Homo sapiens: one gene and its partner. The protein of the gene in region 2 interacts with the protein of the main gene of each other region in a biochemical or structural test. Each region holds a gene or a part of one and is shown on either strand. Other genes may lie near its edges.

The links. The genes of interacting proteins can lie anywhere in the genome.
Region 1: of the proteins of PRKCA (region 2) and EIF4EBP1, one has a biochemical effect on the other in vitro, tested with the Homo sapiens proteins (one large-scale study listed by BioGRID).

Annotation. Positions count from the first base shown.
Region 1 is NC_000008.11:38,057,700-38,060,865, reverse strand, and holds the end of EIF4EBP1 (eukaryotic translation initiation factor 4E-binding protein 1), read right to left. Parts: intron 963-3,166; coding exon 931-962; 3' UTR 501-930; downstream 1-500. UniProt on the Homo sapiens protein: Repressor of translation initiation that regulates EIF4E activity by preventing its assembly into the eIF4F complex: hypophosphorylated form competes with EIF4G1/EIF4G3 and strongly binds to EIF4E, leading to repress translation.
Region 2 is NC_000017.11:66,305,613-66,309,112, reverse strand, and holds part of PRKCA (protein kinase C alpha type), read right to left. Parts: intron 3,018-3,500; coding exon 2,986-3,017; intron 1-2,985. UniProt on the Homo sapiens protein: Calcium-activated, phospholipid- and diacylglycerol (DAG)-dependent serine/threonine-protein kinase that is involved in positive and negative regulation of cell proliferation, apoptosis, differentiation, migration and adhesion, tumorigenesis, cardiac hypertrophy, angiogenesis, platelet function and inflammation, by directly phosphorylating targets such as RAF1, BCL2, CSPG4, TNNT2/CTNT, or activating signaling cascade involving MAPK1/3 (ERK1/2) and RAP1GAP.

The DNA.
Region 1 (3,166 bases), on a different chromosome or scaffold from region 2:
ACCTGTTCTTGTGCCAGTCTTCTCAGCTGTAAAGTGAGGATAACAGTTGTTCTACTTACCCACAGGATCAGAGTCAGAATCAAATAAGGACAGGCCCACGCTTTAGAAGCACTGTACAAGGCTGGGCACGGTGGCTTACACCTGTAATCCCAGCACTTTGGGAGGCCAAGGCGGGTGGATCACCTGAGGTCAAGAGTTCGAGACCAGCCTGGCCAACATGGTGAAACCCTGTCTCTACAAAAATACAAAAAAATACTAGCTGGGCATGGTGGCGGGCACCTGTAATCCCAGCTACTCGGGAGGCTGAGGCAGGAGAATTGCTTGAACCCAGGAGGTGGAGGTTGCAATCAGCTGAGATTGCGCCATTGCACTCCAGCCTGGGCCACAAGAGTGAAACTCCGTCTCAAAAAAAAAAAAAAAAAAAAAGCAGCAGCACTGTACAGATAGCAGCTGGTGTTAGTTACCAAACAGAGTTGAAAAAAGCTCAGACGGGGCCCAACTCTTGGCCCTAGGGCGAAGGTGGCTTTTATTTCCTCTCTTGGGGAAGGAGGGGGAGGGAGCTTTCCCAAGCACATCAACCTAAGGAAGGGGTGGTTGCGCCCCCAGCAGCGAGGGGCTGGAACTGCTGATCATTCGGAAGGAAGGGTTCGTTCTTGTCCACTTCCTGGCCCTTGGCTGCAGGGTGTGCTGGCAGGGGTCACTCCCCTTGGGGTGGCAGCTCCTGCATCAGTGGAGGCACAAGGAGGTATCTGCTGGTGTTCACGAAGAGGAGGGGGCAGGTGCCCTGAGTGAGGGAGAAAGGGCTGGGGTGTCCGACCCCACGCCAACGCCTGCCCAGTATGATCACTTTCATAAGGCCTGGCTGGTGGGACTCCTCCCAGGAAGGCCCTGAGGGGCCCCTTGGTAGTGCTCCACACGATGGCTGGTGCTTTAAATGTCCATCTCAAACTGTGACTCTTCACCTGGGGAGAGAGGGGACAGAGGGCCAGGTCAACAATGGGTGAATGCTTGGTATATGAGGCCATTCTTTCATTGCTATAAAGAAATACCTGAGGTTGGGTAATTTATAAAGAAAATAAGTTTTTTTTTGTTTTTTTGTTTTTTTTTTTTGAGATGGAGTCTCACTCTGTCTCCGAGGCTGGAGTGCAGTGGCCCAATTTCGGCTCACTGCAACCTCCGCCTCCTGGGTTCAAGCGATTCTCCTACCTAAGCCTCCCAAAAGAGTAGCTGGGATTATAGGCACCCACCACCACACCCAGCTAATTTTTGTATTTTTAGTAGACCCGGGGTTTTGCCATGTTGGCCAGGCTGGTCTCGAACTCCTGATCTCAGATGATCCACCCTCCTCAGCCTCCCAAAGTGCTGGGATTACAGGTGCGAGCCACCGTGCCCAGCCAAGAAAAGAGGTTTAACTGGCTCGCGGTTCTGCAGGCTGTACAAGCATGACGCCGGCCTCAGCTTGGCTTCTGGGGAGGCCTCAGGGGGCTTTTCGTCATGGTGGAAAGCAAAGCGGGAGCAGGCATGTCACATGGAGGAAGCAGGAGCAAGAGAGAGGGTGGAGTGGCGCTCCCACACTTTACAACAACCAGATCTCGAGAGAACTCATTCACTATCATGAGGACAGCACCAAGCTGTGAGGGATCTGTCCCCACGACCCAAACACCTCCCACCAGGCCCTACCTCCAACACTGGGGATTACAATTTAACATGAGATTTGGGCAGGGACAAATATCCAGACTATATCATTTCGTCTGACTCTTGTTGTTTTTGCTTTTTTCTTTAGAGACAGGGTCTCACTCTCTTGGCCAGGCTGGCGTGCAGTTACGCAATCATAGCTCACTGCAGCCTTGACCTCCTGGGCTCAAATGATCCTCTGGCCTCAGCCTCCCAAGTAGTTGGGATTACAGGCATGCACCACCATGCCTGGCTAATTTTAAAATTTTATGTAGAGATGGGGTCTTGCATTGTTGCCCAGGCTGGTATTGAACTTCTGGCCTCAAGTATTCATCCTGCCTCAGCCTCCCAGAGTGCTGGGATTTCAGGCATGAGCCACTGTGCCTGGCCACCAGCTGATGTTTTTAGGGGCCAGGGACAGCCCCTATTTTTTGAAAGTAGATAACTTGTTTAGTTTCACAGGCTCACAGCTGGAAGGAAATTAAGCTTGAGATGAATCATGCTGTGAGTCTTGTCTGATTCAGATGAAATTCTGGACTTTGAACTTTTGAGCTAGGACTGCAACGTGTTAAGTCTTTGGGGATATGGGGACCAAATTAATATATGTGTATATGAGAAGGACATGAGTTTGGGGGGTCCAGGGCTGGAATGCTATGGTTTGAAATTCATACAGAAACTTAATCCCCAATGTAACAGTATTAAGAGTTGGGGCCGTTAAGAGGTAATTGGGTCATGAAGGCTCTGTCCTCATGAATGGATTAGCCCATTCCTGGATTAATGGGTTACCACAGGAGTGGGCTAGTTATCACAAGAGTGTTATAAAAAGGCAGCTTGGTTCTCTCTCATGTGCCCCTCTTGCCCTGTGATGCCTTCCGCCATGTTATGATGCAGCAGGAGGCCCTCACCAGAAGCCCAGCAGATGCGGGCACCATGCCCTTGGCCTTCCCAGCCTCTAGAACTGTAAGAAATAAACCATTTTTCTTCATAAATTACCCAGTCTCAGGTATTCAGTTACAGCCATAAAAAAACAGACTAAGACACAGGCAACTATTGTCTGTCTTGTACTGTGAGGTTCCCAAGGTAATTATGAATCATGTCCTGCAGGCCCTGGGGAGATTAATTCTGCTGCTGTTAGCAGAGCCAGCCAAGCTGAGGTCCCTGCTGCTTCCTGTCTGGGCCTGGGGTACGGCCTTCCGGGTGAAGGGTCGGCGGGTTCCAATCTGATTATAGTTGCCCGGAAGTGCTTATGCTGCATCATCTTGCAGCAGAGAACTCCAACACTCTGCCAAGCCAGTCAGGATGCCACAAAGAGTGCATTCACTTACACCACTACCACAGTGGCTGCTCTAATTACTCGGGAGGTGGGGACAGCAGGAAGGACCCAGCTACCAAATGTCAAATCGGCAGAGACAACTGGCTGCATTGTTTCTACCTGCCTTCATGAAGATCCACTAGGGGACCAACAGCCCAACAGGAGGCATCCCGGATGTAT
Region 2 (3,500 bases):
GCTGCAGATATTTTACCTACTAACCAAAGCAACATACTACATACTAGTGGACAGAAAGCACTGCCTCATCGGGTAAAAATAATCTGATGTATGAGGAATACAAAAAGCAGTTTCAAACTCCAGCTGTCATTTCCAGAGAGTGTGTTGCCAAAGGTATGAATGAGAATGAGTTATTCTCCTGCAGAAGAATGATGTTCTATCAAACAAAACCGAGGAAAAAAAAAACAAAATTAGAGAGCATTAAAAGAAAACTTCACTCTACGATAGTCAGATGTTAATAGAAAGATTAATTTTGCGGTAGGAGCCAAAACAGAAAATGCTGGGTAACTATATTTGTGGGATTAAAAGCATCACCCTGAGGTAACATATCCTTCTTAAGTTACAACAAACAATAAAATACAATGGACTAGCATATGCCTACTAGAAGTCAAATACAGATGAGACACAGTAAACAAAATATAACAAGCAGACAGCATGTTACAAATAAATGTATACTATTGGAAAAGGTCTCTGTGAACTGTAATTTGTAAACGCACTAGGGTAATTCATTATTTAAAGAGATCTGAGGTTAAATTCTTCACCAAAGCAAAGAACTATATAGAAAGCACATAGTCACTTCTCTAATTTGTCTGGTTTGTAAATCCAGAGTTTCAAATATTAGGTAGAGTAAGGCAATTCACACAACACAAATGGCTAAAACACATTTGAAAAAAAAAGTTCAAGCTCACCCATAATGCAGGAGATGGAAATCTAAAAGAGGGGCCCCTTTTCACCTACCAGATTGGTAAAAAATGTAAAAGATGTATATTACCCGATATCTTCACTGGTAAAAATGAAGAGGAAGTCCCATTAATACAAAAAAATGTGCACTGGAACTCTTGAAGAGCAATTTAGCAGCACCCGTTAAAATGTAAGATGCACACATACACACTTCTGGCTATCTATTGTAGAAATACCTATACTAGTGTCCAATAATGCTCTTGACAAAGGTATTTGTACTAGTAAGAACGAATTACAAAATACCCCTTGATAGAGGAATGGGTGAATAAATTGGATACATCCACACATGCAGCCACTAAGCAGAGTAAGGCAGAACTGATGCTTTGATGTGGAAGAATATCCACCATCTACTGCTGAGTGAAAAGAGCAAGTTGCAAAGTCGTATAAAATTTTGATCTCCTTTTAAAAACTAAGTATGTGTGAGTGAGTGAACGAATGGTTGTCTCAAACAGAAGTTATCTCTGGAGGAGGGAAAAGAGAAGCATATGCAATTTCACTTTTTATTTTATACAGTTTAAAATTTTTATGGGTTTCACTTTTTTAATTTAGGTAAAAGGGAGTTATGTTGCCATGAAACTATTAATCTGCTAATCCACTAAAAGTTCAAGAGATGCTCTGGGGGAAATCATGCAAAACCCCCTAGAGCCTAGTAATACGGCCACTGTGATTTCCACAAAATCTGCTCAGATGAGCGGGTCTAAGAGGAACCAACCTTATTCTAATCAACCTTATTTTTTATTTATGCAGAAAATGATAAAAGTTTTAGAACAAGACAACCACTTTCTCCCAGACAAGCAGTATGGAGAAGATTCAGTACAAAAATTTTCTTATAGATTTATGTAAGTCCCCACCCAAACGAAAAATATCACCAAAAATAACAGATGTCAATCACATTGGCCCAGAACCTTACATCTTTAAACTCCCTAAAGTCATGTTCAAGCCTAGGCTCAAATCTCACCCATAAAGTTCAGGCCCACAACTTTGAGAACTAGAAAGAGCTACATTTTCCTTTCATCTTTTGTAGAGACTGGTATAACACATCTTTCTCTTTCTTCTCTTTTTAAAAGGAATATCCCTTGATTTTCAAATGCAACTCTGAAAATGATACACTCAGTAGGGGTTTTAAGCACATCTTGGAGAAAGGAAGGTAGAATATTAAATGAATAATCATACCATAAAATACTCCCATCTAAAATATGTTTAGAAAATGTATACAAGAAACAAGTTCACAAATTTGAACTAGTTTTTAAAAGGCAACCAATTTACTAGCACAATCTCAAAGTTGTAAAAAAGTACACAGTGCCTTTCTCTCTAATGCACTTAATATTAAACAGTGTTAGGATAATATTTTCCAGGCTAGAATGTACTTTCTGCTTGCCCTAATAATAAATCTATGCCCAGATGGGAAATGGAACCAGAACTAAATAAACACAATATAGACAATGAGCAGGAGAGCCAGAAAAGTTAGCTAATGAGCCTGTGATGCCTTCACAAGCTCTAAAGTGGGTTTCTTCAAAAAGGAAAAGTCAAACAATTAGAATGGAGAGTACAAAAAGTTAGATATTCGATGTGTGTGAAATGCAATTACAGATCAGAGGGTGAAGCAAATGGATTTCTTTCTGTATGTGATGGCTGATATCACGTTTTGTCAGATATGTAAGCTGAAAGGAAAGCATGCTACATAGTCATACCATAGAAATCAGTCATCAAATCATCAACAAAACTTTAAAACATGCAAACTTTGTTCTCGATGACAACTGGTATTCTAAACAAAACAAACCCTTACTAGAATGAAATACGGCCTAAAATTAGTTGCAGTGAGTCCAACTCAATACATAAGTAAAAGCGATGAAGAATAAAAACAAAGAGGAAGAACAAGGAAGAAAAGCCACTTGAATACAAAGTGATTCCATTTTTTTCTCAACACCCACACAAAGACAGCAGTTTCTGACAAGAATGTTCTCGGCAAAAAATAAAATTACAGAAAGGCTTTTTTTTTTTTTTTCCAATGAGAAAAAGGCAGCTCTATATGCAGATTAGTAGGCCCCAATTATTTTTTAAGGCCCAAATTTACAGCCCTCATATTTCAAAATTATCTAAATAACATTTTTTTATTGGAAAGAAAATATGACTGGAAATAATGTTCTTGTTTGGAATGCTTATTTCATGTTGTGCTTGAAAATAAAACCAAAAGTGGTAGCTTACCTTGGCACTGGAAGCCTTGTTTCCCAAACCCCCTGAAAAACAAAAACAAGAACAAAATATCTTAACATATTTTCTGTTGGATAGCATATTTTAAACAAGTTATGTGACCAAGTACTCTACCACTAAAGGTTTGTATGTGAAACCCAATGATTTAATAGAAAAAAACATACCTAAATATCTAGTCAGATTACTGTGTAAATTCAACCTTGGGGGGAAAAAAATCTTGCCTATAAAGGATCACTGAACTATTTCGATGTATCAACCTTTTTTCCAATTTTTTATACTATGTTATCAATACTAAAATTTCAAGACAAGAACATGACTGTATATTCAAACTTGTTGGCTACAACACAATATTCAAGTAACAAAACAGTTTATGGTTAAAATTGTAAAAGGAAGTTGCTTATTTTGTTCCTGAAGACCAAATGAAAATTGTTTTTATCTCCCTAAAGATAACAAAGTGGCTTCTTTTTGTTTAAAATATCACATGTCTAGAAACTGCCAAACGGCATCAC